2 separate regions of the Homo sapiens genome follow, and region 1 is linked to region 2. Evidence: fine-mapped expression QTL. A gene starts in region 2. The other region holds a variant in brackets. All regions are shown on one strand. Distances are between the middles of the regions.

What was found. PIP is the estimated chance that this variant, and not a neighbour inherited with it, causes the effect.
Region 1: its variant is fine-mapped to the expression of RNF187 in NK cells (Schmiedel 2018, PIP 0.95).

What each region holds. Positions count from the first base shown.
Region 1 is chr1:228,509,528-228,517,856 of GRCh38, forward strand. LOC105373124 (a long non-coding RNA gene) reads left to right here. Exons shown (of 3, transcript XR_949233.3): 3 at 364-605. It also overlaps the pseudogene BTNL10P. Among named protein-coding and RNA genes, the nearest start is that of RNF187, 26 kb to the left of the region's middle. RefSeq lists an enhancer at 1,611-2,112. The variant A/G (reference allele first, on the strand shown) is at 5,046.
Region 2 is chr1:228,483,899-228,492,227 of GRCh38, forward strand. RNF187 (ring finger protein 187) reads left to right here and starts at 3,484. Exons shown (of 4, transcript NM_001010858.3): 1 at 3,484-3,980; 2 at 5,062-5,154. The coding sequence starts at 3,591. RefSeq lists enhancers at 2,362-3,223, 2,543-2,922, 3,224-4,084, 4,202-4,930, 4,931-5,658 and 1 more and silencers at 3,543-3,662, 3,923-4,122.

The DNA.
Region 1 (8,329 bases), 26 kb after region 2:
GCTAAATTTGGAAACAACCAAGATATTTTTTAGTAGGTGAATGGATCAATAAACAGTGGTCCATCCAGATCCTGGAACGTTATTCATTTCACAAAAGAAACAAGTTATCAAGGCAGGAAAAGACATGGAGGAAACCTAAATGCGTACCACAAAGTGAGGGAAGTCAAAGTGAAGGGGCTACAGAGGCACCGTCCCAACTACAGGACATTCCAGAACACCTGGAAACTATGGAGACAGTGAAAACATCAGTGGTGGCCAGGAGTTAGGGGAGATGAATGAATGAGCGGAGCACGGAGGATTAAGGGCAGTGACATTATTTTGTATGATACTATGACAGATATGTGGCATTATATATTTATCTAGAACCATGGGACACCATGCCAAGAGTGAGCCCTCATGAAAACTGCACTCTGGGTGCTGACGGCATTGTCAACGGAAGTTCATCAAACATGGTGGACGTTCCTTCTGGTGTAGGGTTTTTATGCTGGGGGAAGGTGTGTGAGGGGGTTAGGGGAAGATGGGAACTCTCTGGACTTTCTACTAAAATTTGTTGTGACCCTAAAACTGCTTTAAAAAATAAAGCCTATTTTAAAAAACCCTAAAAACTGTTGATATTAGGATGTACATTTCTTGTTCCCCCAAAGGCAAGGCTCTCCCCAGGGTCCCTGCACCCTTATCTCTGTTCCTCTTCAGTAATCAGCACCCAAACAGTGCACCTCCTGGGATGCCCCAGCCATGTGAGGACAGGGACCTGCCACCCATCCCTGCTTGCCACAAACCCCACAGCTGTCTCTTAATGTCCCCAGTGTCCAGGGCCACGGAATCCTGTGCTCAGTGATTGTGAGGACAGAACTGAATAGAGGACTCACCGGGCAGGTGGCTCTCAGCCACCTTCCTCCTTTCAGGGAGGAGGGGGCTGGAGATGGAGCAGGAGAGACCCTCCACAGCCCTGTCCCAGAGCGTCAAGCTGGATGCCACAGCCCAGAGCCTGGTGGTGGCTGAGGCTGATAGATTGGTCACAGCAGGCCTAGCCTGGCCCCTGAAGTCTCTCCGTTCCACCCAGGACTTGGGGAAACAGCCTGCTGATGTGCACTCCGCCCTGACTCCATCCTGCTGGTCTGTCACCTGGATTCTGGGCTCTCTGCCCAGCCCTGAAGGAAGAGACAGCAGCTTGAATCTTTGCAGCCATGGCTGCTTCTATTTAAAGGAAAAACAAAATCTTGAGGATTTCCAATGTATTTTGGCAATTTCACAAACTGCCTACCCTGTGTTACACACCATCCCTAACAGAGTTCCCCATTTCCCAGACAAAAGAAGGGAAGCAAAGTGGAAAAGGTCCAGGAAGATTGAATAGGCATCCTGTGTTGCAGAAGTAGAATTCATGGCACAAGATGGGACCCAGGCTTGTCTGTTTCGAAGCACAAGTTCTGAGTCACTCGGGAAACCTCCCGTATCTGAAGACTCTCTTCTCTCTCTTGGCCTTTCTGTCTCCTGTCATTATTTCTCTGTCTCTCTCTTCCTCCCACTCTCTGTTGCTTACTGTCTTTCTCATTTTCTTTTACTGTCTCTCTGTCTCTGTCTCTATCTCCCTCTCTCTGTCACTGACTCTGTCTCTTTGTCTCTTTCATTCTCTCTGTGTTTCTCTCAGTTTCTCATTCTCTCTGTCTCTCTCCATCTCTGTCTCTCCTGTCTTTCATTCTCTGTCTCTGCCTGTCCCTCCCTCTCCATCTCTCTCTTTCCCCATCTCTATAATTCTGTCATTCTTTCTTCATCTCTCTCTGTCTTTCTCTCATCTCTCTGTCTTTCTCTCCATCTCTCTTTCCACCTCTGTCTGTCTCTCCCTGCTTCTTTCTCATTCTATCTCTTCTTCTCTGTGTCTCTCTCATTCCCCCCATCTCTCTCTTTCCCTTCCCTTCACTTTCCAGTCCACTGGTGTAAGGAGGGAAAGGAAGATGAGGAAGGTGGCTCTGCCTTCACCGCTGTGCTTCCCGGGAGCAGTGCAGGCCAGCACGGCAGCTGGGAGAGTGCACTCTCACCCTACTGAAAAGCCCTCCACCTGAACACGCTGGGCCCCAAGGCCATGCCTGGAAGTAGACTGACAGCCAGCTAGCCACCAGCCTTACCTGCCACCTGCACCTGCACAGTGGCCTCGCCGAACTTTACACCATCCTTGAAGCGGCAGCAGTATGTCCTGTTGTCAAAGGTGGTGACCCTGTGACTCCTCACCATGGCCTTGCCCCTGGCCACGTGGTCACTCATGAAGGTGGTCCTTCCTCTGTACTGCCACTTTTGCTCTCCATCCATGTCCATCCCTCTCTCATGCATGTGCACAGCTAGGGAGGGCTGGCACCTGTACCACCTCAGCTCCATGTCCTCGGCACTGATATTGGGGAACAGCTGGCACTGTAACTCCACGTGTCCCCCAGCCATAGCCAGAATAGGGGCATGAGGCCCAGTGACATCAAAGTCAGCTTTCCCTGGGGGAGGCAGATCAGAAAGGGCTGGGTTAGGCCATGTGTTGGGAGGCCAGGGCACTTCCCCCCTGCCCCTCCCTCTTCTTGGAAGCTTTGGGGACCTATTGAGCCCTGAGCTGCTGGGAGATGCTTCAGCTTCCCGCCATGCTGGACACACCCCCACCTATGCCAGGGCACCTGCCTCGACTTGCACAGGAGTCTGTCCCTCAGTTTTGACAGATGCTGGCCAGTGGGAGCTGCAGGAAGACCAAGGTGACAAAGCAGATGGACAGGAAGGCCTCTGGATCGCATGTCACTGCCATTCCTGCCAGGCCGGAGCCACGCACTGTCACTGGGAGAGGAGCCACCGCCAGGAAGCTAACAGGTGCAGAGGAAAAGTGCCATGGAAGAAAAAGAAGAAAAAGGTCATTTACTCTCACTCTCAAACAAGTTATTAATGCTATAAATGGAGACACAGCAAGCCTCATGTGCTCCTGTACCCATCTCCTTGCGGGTAACACACCTCTCACCCTAGTCTGTCTGCGGAATTCCACGAGGACATCCAGGAGGGAAGGGGTTTGATTTTCTAATTGCTCATAAAGAGCTGTAGCCCAGTCTCTAGCTGGTGACTGTCATGAAACTCCAGAATGCTGGGGGAGAAAACCCAGACTCGGATTAAGCAAATTCGAGGTCAGAACGACATCAAGGGATTCCCTTAATGTCCCTTGCTTTCCTGCTGTCCCCATGGGGACTTCTACAGTCAGGGGCTGGGGGCTGGGCCCAATCCTCAGAGCTCTTCAGCTGGGATGGGCAGGCCAAGACCCTCATGAGTCTCTTGTGAGCATTTCTTGTAACCTTGGTTTAGAGAGCAGGTGTTGGTAAAAAGTTCTGTGACCTTGGGCGGTTCTACCCAGCACAGCCATCCAGGTTGGGCATTTACGTGTGTGATTAGGGAGTTGTGTGGGCACAGGCTCTTGTCCTGTTTGGTTCTTGCATTGCAGGAAGGCCCTGTGGTCCTTCTGCCCTTGGGGATGGGGAGAGGGTGGAGGAAGCAGAGACACTGAAGAGCAAACCACATCCTGACCATAGACAATGCTCACCTGGCACCGAGAGCTGCTGCAGCTTCCCTGGGAAGTCCTGGCAACTTTGGGGGAATGAATTTAGTTTCCTGCCAACTCCAGGTAGGGTGTGACCCAGACCAACCACGCTGTCTCCAAGCAGTGATGTGAAAGGCAACCTAGACATCTGGCAAAAGCCGCCAAGTCCCCCAGTTTCCAGAGATTCTTCCTTTTGTTTTTTGCAAAAATATGTAACTGTACCTTTCTGGCAGTTGCAGCAGAAAAAAAAAAAAAGGCTTCCTGAAGAGTGTGATCCCCAGTGTGGAACACCCCAGGGCTGGGGAGCAGGAGATAGAGCCCGCCGGGAGGAGACGGGTCTCAGGGTGGGACCCAGGCCAGCTGAAGGAGCTGCAAATGCAGATAAAGCCTGTGGTTATCTGGCAGCGTGCAGGCCCAGCCTAGCTGGCCCAGGTCCTTCAGGAAAGGTGTTTATGATCATGTCGCAATGTCCTAATTCCTGTATTGTCCCAGAGGGACGTTCAGGGCTCCTCTTCCCCAGCCCTTCGCTGCCCTCCGTGGCTGTGGGGTCATGGGTGTCTGTTCTCACTGGTAGCATCCCTGGCCCAGCTTAGAACCTTCATGCTGATTTCTCGCACCCAGCCGCAAGGCCTATTCCCTCCTCACCTTCTTGTTTGATGATTCAAAAGTCTGGGCCTTTTCCTGGGTGGTTTTTGTGAGAAAGGAGTCCTTGCTTTCCTAGAGGGAGGAGCTTTATCCAAACTCTGCAGACGGGCTGAGCACTCCCTGTGCCTGCGGGCGGTGAGGAAATCCAAGTGCCAGGTCCCTCCTATGTCCCTCCTTGGGGGAGCGTCTCTTTGGTCAACCGGTTGTTCCCCCTTTTATATGTCAACACGTAAGAATTATGTCGTCCTGTGATCTGCTTTTACCAGACAATGACGTGACCTAAAACTCGACTCACTTGTCCTTTTTAAAAAAATAATTGACCAGACGCGGTGGCTCACACCTGTAATCCCAGTACTTTGGTAGGCTGAGGCAGGCAGATTGCCTGAGGTCAGGAGTTCAAGACCAGTCTGGCCAACGTGGTGGAAACCCATCTGTACTAAAAATACAAAAAAATTAGCCCAGCATGGTGGCCTGTGCCTGTAATCCCAGCTACTTGGGAGGCTGAGGCAGGGGAATTGCTTGAACCAGGGAGGTGGAGGTTGCAGTGAGCCAAGATCGTGCTACTGCACTCCAGCCTGGGTGACAGAGTGAGACTCTGCCTCAAAAAAACATTAATTAATATGTTGTTAAAGACAGGGTCTCACTCTGTCACCCAGGCTGGAGTACAGTGGTGTGATCTCAGCTCACTGCATCCTTGATCTCCCAGACTCAAGCAATCCTCCCATCTCAGCCTCCCAAGTAGCTGGGACCACAGGTGCACCATCATGCCTGGCTAAATTTTTGGTATTTTTTGTAGAGATAAAGTCGTGCTATGTTGCCCAGGCTTGTCTTGAACTCCTGGGCTTAAGCA[A/G]TCCTCCCACTTCGGCTTATCAAAGTACCGTGGTTACTGGCATGAGCCACTGTGCTGCATCCAGTCACACTTGTCCTGATGACTTGGGAAGAAGGACTCAGGTTTGAACAATCTAGAGTGAGCCGCTACGATGTACAGAGCACACTGTGTTGAGAGCAGATTGTGATGCCTGTTGTCGGATGAAGAGTGTCACAAGCACTGGGAGAAGCTATGGCAGAGAAAGGTGTCCTGGCGGTGTGGGCTTTCAGCCCATGGGTAGGTCACCTGACACGGTGGTCCTTCTGTGCATGAGCCCATGTGTGGCCCAGAGTCTCTCATGTGGGCAGTCGGGGCTCCTGCAGACACATTCAGCTCAACCCACCTCAGGTACAATGTTTAAAGTTCAAAGGCAAGAAGAAGACAGGAGGTCACACACTGCACAATTCCATTCATATGAAATGATCAGACAGGTAAATACAGGGACAGAAAGAAAACTGTGGTTGTTGGGGCTGAGGAGATGGGGGAGGTGGAAATGGAGATGAGGAATAACTGTTTAATATTTTGGGGGTTTTATTTAGGGTGATGAAAATATTTTGGAATTAGATAGAGGTGGTGGTTGCAAAACATTGGGAATGTACTTAATGCCACCAAATGGTATGCTTTAAAATGGTCAATTTTATATTATGTAAATTTTATCTCAATTGATAAAAAAGAAAAACATTAAAAAAAGAAAAAGCAGAAAAAAAGAACAAAAACAACAGAGTGAGAGAGAGGAGAGAGAGAGAAAACAAACAAATAACAAAAAAAAGAGCTGCATATCCACCCTCTTGTGGATGGGATTATGGTTAAAAAACAAGAAAACCCCCAAATCTCAACTTTGTTAAAAATGGGATTGTCTGGCCTTTGGTGCCCTCTGCAGGAATGGATGTCAGTGCACCAGTCCCTCTTCCCAGTTTTCTTTTTCTTCTTTTCCTCAACTTTTATTTTAAATTCAGGGGTACATGTGCAGGTTTGTTACATGGATTTATTGCATGACACCACTGAGGTTTGGGATCTGAGTGATCCTATCACTCAGGTAGTGAGCATAGTACCCAATAAGTTAGTTTTTCAACCCTCTCCCTCTCCCTTTCTCTCTGCTCCAGTAGTCCCCAGGGTCTCTTGTTCTCATCCTTATGTCCATGCGTGCCCAACGTTTAGTTCCCACTTATAAGTGAGAACATGTAGCATTTGGTTTTCTGTTCCTGTATTAATTCACTTAGGATAATTGTCTCCAGCTGCATCCATGTTGCTGCAAAGGACATAATGTCACTTTTTTATGGCTGTGTTGTGTATATGTACCACATTTCTGTATGTACATATACACATGGTGTATATGTACCACATTTTCTGTATCCAGTCCCCCAATGACAGGCACCTAGGTTGATTCCATTTCTTTGCTATTGTGAATTGTGCTGCAATAAACATATGAGTGCATGTGTCTTTTTGGTAGAATGATTTCTTTTCCTTTGGTTATGTACCCAATAATGGCATTGCTGGGTCAAATGACAGTTCTACTTTTAGTTCTTTCAGAAACCTCTGAATTGCTTTCCATGGTAGCTTAACTAATACACTCCCACATGGTGTATAAATGTTGCCTTTTTCTGTACAAATTTGCCAACATCTGTTAATTTTTTCACTTTTTAGTAATAGCCATTCTGACTGGTGTGAGATAGTGTCTCATTGTGATTTTGATCTGCATTTCTGATGATTAGTGATGTTGAGCATTTTTTCACGTTTGTTGGCTGCATATATGTCTTCTTTTGAGACGTGTCTGTTCAAGTCCTTTGCCCATTTTTAAATGGAGTTGTTTTTAGCTTGTTGAATTGTTTAGGTTCCTTATAGATTCTGGATCTTAGCCCTTTGCTGATAGTTTGTGAGTATTTCATGAGTATTTGAGTTTGTGAATATTTTCTCCTGTTCTGCAGGTTGTCTGTTTACTCCATTGATGGCTGCTTTTGCTGTGCAGAAGCCCAGTTTCTCCTAAGATCCCCTAGAAGCCAGAGAGATTTTCTGTCGGAAGGAGTCCTCTTGTATTTCCCTCCCCCTCCATCTGTTCTGGGCCTGGGAGCCAGCTTTGCTCTCTGGGCCCTGAGCAGGCCAGTTTGTGTCCTCTTTTCTCAAAGCGCCTCTGAAAACAGCTCAACTGGTGTTTTCCCTGTAGACCCTCTCTCTGTCCTATAAATGGGACCAAACCCATAGGGGCAGTCTTGGAGGACAAATGACACTCTTCCTAATCTCTCCTTCTTCTCCCTATTCCCTGCACAAACTTTCTACTTTCCACAACCCCTGGGACTGTGTGCATAGGGATTCCGGATCCTCTAAGCATTTAAAACGATATTTACCCAAGTCATGGATGATATGTCTCACCTCACTCTTGGATGGTAAATTTGCTCCCTGAGGCTTTGCAATTTCTGTCTACACAGTGTCTAGTCCAGGCCCAAGTGGTACCTTGCAGCAAGCATACCCCGCTTCTGTTTTCCTAAGGCCTCCCACTCTTTAATGCAAACCATGTATTTTTTCTCAATATTATGTAAAGTGCTCTGTAAATGTAGCTGGAAGAGCCCCCTAACAAGCAGATCCGCCAAGCAGCCCCTCCAGCATGGACATTTAAGGATTGCCTTTGTGTCTTAGACTCTGGAGATAGTGTTAGTTGAATGACTACCAGGTGGGTGCAATGAAGACTAAAAGCCACAGGCTGGCCACTCTTGAGGAGACAGGACTCAGAAGGGGCACGCAAGGATGCTGGGGCCTTCAGGATGAGACGGAAGGTTCAGCAGAAGAGAAAGATAAAAGAAAAAGAAAAAGTGAGATGGGATACAGCAAGGGAAGAAGAAGAACTAAATTAAATGAAGTAAATGAAGTAGGGTCATTTTGTACACAGATTTGACGCAGATTATTTATTCATAAAAGTCTGTGTCAGGCATTCAGGTCCTTTGGAATGCATTAGTGAATCAAATGAACAAAAGTTCATTTTGTTGATATCAGGAGTTGATATCCTTCTTTCTCTAATGCCTCCTTCTCCTTTTCTTCTTCTCCACATTCTCATCTTCTTGCTACTCTCCATCCTGCTTCTCCTACCCTCCTCCTCCCACATTTTTCTTACATTATTCTTGTATTTCTCCTTTTTCTCTCTCATTTTCCCTTCCTTTTCCTCCTCCTTTTCTGCTTCTTCTTCATTATCATGATCTGCTTTGTGGTTGTCTTTTTACGCTCTCCCTCTTCTTTATTCTTCTTTGCCATCCTCATCTTGGCTATCTTTGTCATCA
Region 2 (8,329 bases):
ATAGTGATATGACATACATTTCTCTTTCTTTCTTCTCTTTCTTCCTCTCCCTTCCTCCCTCCCTCCCTTCCTTTCTCTCTTTCTTTCCTTCCTTCTTTTTCTCCTTCCTTCCTTCCTTTTCTTTCTTTCCTTCCTTTCTTCTTTTTCTTTTCCCTTTCTTCCTTCCTTCCTCTCTCCCTCCACTCCTTCCTTCTCTCCCCCACCCCCCGCCCCCACCTCTCTCTCTCTCTCTCTCTCTCTTTCTTTTTTTTAAGACAAGGTCTTAAAAAATTCTCTCATTTCCCAGGCTGGAGTGCAGTGGCATGATCACGGCTCACTACAGGCTCAATCTCCTGTGCTCGGGTGATCCTCCCACCTCAGCCTCCCAAGTAGTTGGGTCCACAGGTGCGTGCCACCACGCCCAGCTAAATTTTAAAAATTTTCTGTACAGACAGGTTCTTGCCATGTTCCCCAGGCTGGTGTTGAACTACTGGGCTCAAGCTATCCACTCACCTCAGCCTCCCAAAGTGCTGGGATTAACAGGCATGAGCCACCTCTCCCAGCCACATTTCTAAACAAAACAAAACAGCCCAATTTTTTACAACCCAATTTTTATTATTTTCATTTCCTGTTATTTTTATAGTTTGTTTTCTAAGAAAAGGAATTCCAATCAGAAAATCCTTAATCGATACTGCTACGTGGATTACAAGAAGCAGTATTCACAGAATCAAGTGTTTTTTTTGTTTGTTTGTTTTCTGTTTTTTGTTTTTTTGAAATGGAGTTTCACTCTGTTGCCCAGGCTGGAGTGCAGTGGTGTGATCTCGGCTCACTGCAACCTCCACCGCCCAGGTTCAAGCGATTCTCCTGCCTCAGCCACCCAAATAGCTGGGATTACAGGCACGTGCCACCATGCCTGGCTAATTTTTGTATTTTTTTTTTTTTTTTGAAACTGAGGGAGTCTTGCTCTGTCGCCAGGTTGGAGTGTAGTGGCATGATCTCGGCTCACTGCAACCTTCGTCTCCCGGTTCCAGCTATTCTCCTGCCTCAGCCTCTCAAGTAGCTGGGACCACAGGCGTGCACCACCATGCCCAACTAATTTTTGTATTTTTAGTAGAGACGGGGTTTCACCATGTTGGCCAGGATGGTCTCGATCTCTTGATCTTGTGATCCACCTGCCTCAGCCTCCCAAAGTGCTGGGATTACAGGCGTGTGCCACCACATCCAGCCTAATTTTTGTATTTTTAGTAGAGATAGGGTTTCACTATGTTGGCCAGGCTGGTCTTGAACTCCTGACCTCAGATGATTCACCCGCCTCGGCCTCCCAAAGTGCTGTGTTTACAGGCCTGAGCCACGGCTCCCGGCCAAGTTTCCTTTTTTTTGTTTGGTCTGCTTACTTAATAGTGGAAAGAAAGAGAGTCTCGTTTTATTTTCCTCTTTCTTAACTGGGCAGAGTGTACATTTTTTTCTCATGTGTGTTCAATCATTTGTGTGCTTTTTTTTTTGTGATTTGAAAAATCCCATGACAAGGTGTATTTTCCATCATGCTTTTCCTTACCTAATTTTATAAACTCTTTGTATATTTGTGGTTACAATGTTCCTAATTTGGCTATTTGCCTTTAATTATAATTTTTGATATTTTCTCATTCACAAGATTAGTTCATTATGAAGTTTGCTCATTTTTTATATTTTTTACTTTTCTCTCCAGCAAGTTCCTAGTTGACTCAACAATATCAGCAAGGCTCGGCTGGAAGCCTCTAATCTTTACTACACAGAAATAACCTCGGTTTACTATTCATGTTTCCCACGGGCATCTAGTGCATTTCCAAGTCGATTTAAAAAATCTTCACAAAGACAAAAATACCTCATTAGATCCTGCGCTTGCTTGGAATACAGATTTATAAAAATTTTTTTTTGTTTTTGTTTTTTAAGACAGAGTCTCGCTCTGTCGCCAGGCTAGAGTGCAGTGGCACGATCTTGGCTCACCGCAACCTCCGACTCCCTGGTTCAAGTGATTCTCCTGCCTCAGCCTCCTGAGTAGCTGGGATTACAGGCATGCGCCACCACGCCCGGCTAATTTGTGTATTTTTAGTAGAGACGGGGTTTCACCATGAGCCAGGATGGTCTCATATCTTGACCTTGTGATCCGCTCGCCTCGGCCTCGCAAAGTGCTGGGATTAGAGACGTGAGCCACGGCGCCCGGCCCAGATTAATTTTTTAAAATGCAAAACTTGCACAATCTTATTTTAACCATGCTTGCTTGTTTTCAAAATAATTAAAAAACAAAAACACAAGATTGCTCTTCCCAAAGGCTTATTTCTTTCCTTTAAATTTATTTTTTAAAGAAAAGCTAACGGCCGGGTGTAGTGGCTCACGCCTGTAATCCCAGCACTTTGGGAGGCAGAGGCGGGTGGATTACGAGGTCAGGAGTTCGAGGCCAGCCTGGCCAACATGGTGAAACCCCGTCTGTACTAAAAATACAAAAATTAGCCGGGCGTCGTGGCAGGCGCCTGCAATACCGGCTACTCGGGGGGCTGAGGCAGGAGAATCGCTTGAACCCGGGACGCGGAGGTTGCAGTGAGCCGAGATCGCGCCACTGCACTCAAGCCTGCCTGGCAACAGAGCGAGGCTGTCTCAAAAAAGAAAGAAAAGCAAAGCAAAGCTAACAAATGCTCTTCTGTCATGCATCATCACAGAATCAATGAGAGCTCCCCCCAGCCAGGAGACAGCGGACAACCAGGGTAGCTTCCCAGGGGGCCAGAGGGAGGCTGCGCGAGAAGAGGCTCAGCGGGATGGGTCCACGCAGGGAGATCCCACGCAGGGTGGGCGTATACGAGTGTCCACGTCCGGAGGGCCGTTCAAGGGCGGGTCCCTGAAGGAAGGGTGCACGCAGGGCACGTCCACGCGGGCAGGCCCGTGCACGCAGGGCGTGCCCATGCAGGGCGGGTCCGTGCAGGATGAGAGCAGCGGAGGAGGCCCACGCAGGCCATTTCCCGCCCCGTCCCCAGCCCACGCGGGCGAGCTACCGCGGGGGTACGCGCAGCTCAGATCCTAGCAGCTTACAAAAACAACCTTTTAAAAATGGAACCTTCAAGTAAAAATAAAACTTTGTTTCCCTCTTTCGCAGGAGTTACTGAAGTAGGAAGGGACAGCCCAGTAAGATTTCAGGATACGACTTGGGCCGGTCCGCAGGCAGTAGAGTGAAGCGCGCAGCTGCCAGGACTTGCGCGGTGACGTGCGCCGCTGCCAGGACCTTGCAGGTGGAGAGCATAGTTGCCAAAATCAAGGCGGAGGAGCGCACCGCCGCTAGGATCCAGGCGGAGAAGCCCACCGCGGCCAGGACCTAAGGATGCAGTACACTGCTGCCAGGATCTTGTCTGTGGAGCGCAGCGCGGCCAGGACCTCCGGCTGCAGCACACCGCTGCCAGGATCTTATCGGCAGAGCGCTCCGCGGTCCGGACCCCGCCCCGTGCGCGTCCCCGACCCCGCCCCGTGCGCGTCCCCGGCGTTGGCGTCTTCGTCCTGTTGCTGGTCTCCGTCCGGTCGCCGGCCGTCTAGGTCTCCGGCCCTCCCCAGCCGCTCCTGCGCCCTTGCCGGCCCCGCCGCCCGCAGCCCTGGCGCTCCCTGCGGGCCCCGCCGAGGCCGCCTGCGCCCTGTGCCAGCGCGCGCCCCGGGAACCGGTGCGCGCCGACTGCGGCCACCGCTTCTGTCGGGCGTGCGTGGTGCGCTTCTGGGCCGAGGAGGACGGGCCCTTCCCGTGCCCCGAGTGCGCCGACGACTGCTGGCAGCGCGCCGTGGAGCCCGGCAGGCCCCCGCTCAGCCGCCGCCTTCTGGCGCTCGAGGAGGCGGCCGCGGCGCCCGCGCGCGACGGCCCGGCCAGCGAGGCCGCGCTGCAGCTGCTGTGCCGCGCCGACGCCGGCCCGCTCTGCGCCGCCTGCCGTATGGCTGCGGGCCCCGAGCCGCCCGAGTGGGAACCGCGCTGGAGGAAGGCGCTGCGCGGCAAGGTGCGCGCCGCGGGGTCCCGTGCCCCACCCCGGACGGTGCCCTGCGCCTCTCCGCCCCCGCCCCGGTCCCCCTGAGCCCTGGGCCCTTCCCGTCTCCACTGTTCCTGTCCCCGGATTGTCCCCGTCCCCGGATTGTCCCCCTCCCCTCACCGCCACGGGTCCCCTCTCCAGCGTGTGCTGGGCCCCTCCCTCCTGCGGCTTGCCTCCCCATATTTCCTGCGTCTCTTCGGAGTCTGGTCCCCTTCCCCGTCTTGGTGTCCCCTGCTGGGCGGTGCCTTATCTCCCCACCCCCTACCTTCTACGAAGTCCTTCCCCCACCAGCGCCCATCTTTGTGGTCCCATCACTAGCTGTGCCCTGTCTCGCCCTCATAGACCCCCTCTAGTTCCTACAGATTGACTCCTCCACTCACTCTTCCCTTGGGGGAGACATCACGCCTCTTGCCCCTCTGTATTCCACTGTGTCCACAGGCCTGGCCCACCTTCTCGTCTGCTCCCCGGGCCACCCAGCCCTCGCCTGCACCCCCTGTCCCCTCTCCCATCTTTCAGAAACCCGCTCTGAGAGTCTGGCAGCAGCGGGTCCGGGAGTCTGGAGCCTTGCCCATGGCGGGTTGGTTGTGGGACACAGAATAGGAGACAACAGCCAGCCTGGGGTCCTGCTCTTCAATACAGGGGAGGGGAAGCCAGCCAGACTGTGTCCCTGGGTGCTCCTCCTGCATTGGGGGTCCTGCCACCGGGCAGAGCGACCCCCATCCGGCTCAGGCAGGGCAGGGTGTAGGGCAGGCTGTGCAGACCTTTGGTACAGGCCGAACTCACACTGAACAGGGCCACTTACAGACACAGAACTCCTAAACCCACCTAGACAGTCCCCTTAGCCCCAGCACCCAGATCCTTCTGAATAGGTGTGAAGCCCAAGAAACCTTTTGACTGCCTGTGCGTTCCTGCCCTAGACAACCGGGCTTCGAGGTTATCTCTGGGATGGTCAGACTGTGTGCAGTCAGCTGGGGTGATGTCCCTCAGTACTGGGCTGGGTTGGGGGACCCAGAGCTTCTGCCCACCCCTGGTGACCTTCTTTTCTTTACAGGAGAACAAGGGGTCTGTGGAAATCATGAGAAAGGACTTGAATGACGCCCGGGACCTGCATGGCCAGGCAGAGTCAGCAGCTGCAGTGTGGAAGGCAAGTGGGGGGACCTGGGGCAGCCTGGAATGAGGGGACTGTGGGCTCAGGGCTCTAGACAAAGGGACCACCAGGCCAAGTGGGCCAGGCCTCTGAACTGCTCAGCTGGTTGGTTGGAGGAGGGGCCTCTGGACTTAAGTGAGCTTCAGGGTATTTTTTTTAGGATGTGTTTGTATTTCTCAAATAGAATCTAGCCAAAGCCAGTGGAAGCCTCTTTTTCTCCTCACATTTTACCTGTAGGTGATGGCAGCATCAGACTTCTTTTTTTTTTCCCAAGAGACAGAGTCTCACTTCATTACCCAGGCTGAAGTGCAATGGCATGATTGTAGCTCACTGCAGCTCGAACTGGCCTCAGGCGATCCTCCCACCTCAGCCTCTGGGACTATAGGCACGTGCTACCACACCTGGTTAATTTTAAAATGCTTTTCTAGAGGTGGGGGTCTTGCTGTGTTGCCCAGGCTGGTCTCAAACTCCTGACCTTAAGCGGTTCTCCCGCCTTGGCCTCCCAAAGTGCTATTTTTTTTTTCTTTTTTAGAACACATCTGTAATTTTCTGTGGTCCTCTTGTTCTGATCTGAGAGTTGCTCATTATTTTTTAGAGGCTAGAAGTCCAAGATGAAGGAACTGGCAGATTCCCTGTCTGGTGAGGGCGTTTCCTGGTTCATAGATGGTGTCTTCTCACTGTGTCCTCACATGGTGGAAGAAGTGAGGGTGTCTCTGGGGCCTTTGTGTAAGGACACTGATTCCGTTCTTGAGAGTTCCACCCTCACAACCTCATCACCTCCCAAGGGTCCTGCCTCCTAACGCCATCACCTGAGGGATGAGGATTTCAGCATGGGGATTTGGGGAGGACACAGACATTCAGACCAGAGCAGCGTTACTTTCCTTGGGTGCCTTCCACAGTATTATATCCCAAGGGGACATCCCATAGATTCTTTTAGGTTACTCACCAGTAAAGCTCTTTAGTCGTTTAAACTCTATTTGGTGACTTTTTCCTCGTGTAGTAAAAACCTGTGTGCCATTTTCTCTGCGTTTCATAAATTCCTATCTCCTTCTTTTAACCTGAAAGACAGAGTGCTTTTCACAGGTGCAGCAGCTCTTGGGTAACTGGCTGCATCTCGAGGCTGAGGCCCACGTTTTTACCCCAGCTTGAGGCTGAGGTGGGCTCTGTGCTCCTGGTGCTGCCAAGCCCTTGCCTGCTATCCACAGGCCTGAGGTGCAGGCCTCCCTCAGACAGTGACGGGTTACACATGGGGTCCCTGATGCCACTCAGACCCCTGGCACTCCACACTGCCCTTGGGGCTGCTCTGAACTTCTCCTTGCCTTGTGAGTGGTCAACACTGCCCAGTGCAAGTGAGGCTGGAAGGCTTTGGGGACCTCCAAGTTTTCAGTAACCCTGTGTTACCCCAAGGGAATTGTTTTGCCCACAGATTTTAGCAGGTTGGAGCTTTCAATCTGTCCTGTTTTGGGGGTTTGTGGCTTAGATGCTGGGATGAGAGAAGCCACCTAAATCCAAAGGAAGGAGTTTGCAGCGTGTTGCATCAGCCAGCCAGCAGACACCCAGCTGTCATTTGCATTCTCAGCAACAAAAGCCTTGGCCCCTCATGACTATGGGTGTCACCTGCCCTGTGTGGCCCAGGGCCAGGTGGAAGCCATCCATGACTGAGTAAAATCAGAGTAGCATCCTGCTCTGCTCTCCTGTTTGCAAGGTTAGGAGTTGGCTGAAAACCAGCTGAAGAGTGGCAAGTGTGAATGCTGTTTGTTGAAGGCTGATGGGATGGTTTTCAGCCATTGGAGTTCTGGTGTGGGCACAGCAGGGACAGTTGCTGGCAAGATGGGTGTGTGTCCTGCCCTGACAGTCACGTGCCTGACAGGCTCTAGACCTAGCAGGGCCACTCAAGGATTTACTGTCCCCTTGGCCATGGGAGATGGGAGAGGGACAGTCTTCCTGTGCAGCTGAGCACTGCAGTGTAGGGGAGAAAGAACTCTATTTCTCCCCTTTTAGGGCCCCAGGCTGGGCGGGAGAATTAAACTGACATAAGCTAAACTAACAGGGTCAGGTGCAGTGGTTCATGCCTGTAATCCCAGCAACTTGGGAGGCTGAGGTGTAGGAGGATTGCTTGAGGCTAGGAGTTCGAGACCAGCCTGGGTAACATAGTGAGACCACCATCTGTACAAAAATTAATAAATTAGCCAGGTATGGTGTTGCATCTGTGGTCCCAGCTACTTGGGAGGCTGAGGTGGGAGGATCACTTAAGCCCAAGAGGTTGAGGCTGCAGTGAACTGTGATGGCACCACTGCACTCCAACATGGGTGACAGAGTGAGGCCCTATCTCAAAAAAAAAAAAAAAAAAAAAATAAAGGGAGATGGGTTAATGGGAGAAAAAACATAGGATTTTTTTTTTTTGAGATGGAGTCTTGCTCTGTTGCCCAGGCTGGAGTGCAGTGGTGCGATCTTGCCTCACTGCATCCTCCACCTCCTTGGTTCAAGTGGTTCTCCTGCCTCAGCCTCCCGAGTAACTGCGACTACAGGTGTGCACCACCACGCCTGGCTAATCTTGTATTTTTAGTGGAGATGGGGTTTCACCATGTTGGCCAGGCTGGTCTTGAACTCCTGACCTCAAGTGATCCAACCACCTCGGCCTCCCAAAGTGCTGGGATTACAGGTGTGAGCCACCGTGTCCAGCCAGGCATATTAATTTAACACAAGTTTTATACAGCACAGGCTCCCTTATAATGAAATGAAGACTCAAAGTGGCAAAATTAAATCACTTATATACTGACTTGGACAAAGACTAGCCACTTGTAAAAAAGCAACTACATGATGTGGGGATGCTTGAAAGAGTTGTTTTCACAAGGTCTGTACCAAATTCTGTCGGCCTTGACTTCCTGTCGTCCTTGATGATAAAATCATTTTATTTGATATGGGGAGGGCGTCTTTCACTTGGGAATTTCATTTGCTTTTAAGAAGCAGAATGGAGGTCAGGGTGATCTTGCACTGTTTTTTGATTTTTTTTAAAAAAGGCCTTGCTCTGTTGGCCCAGGCTGGAGTGCAGTGGTATGGTCATAGCTCACTGCAGCCTCAAACTCCTGGGCTCAAGCGATCGTCTTACCTCAGCCTCCCGAGTTGCTGGGACCATAGGTGTGCACCACTATGCCTGGCTAATGTTTTTGAT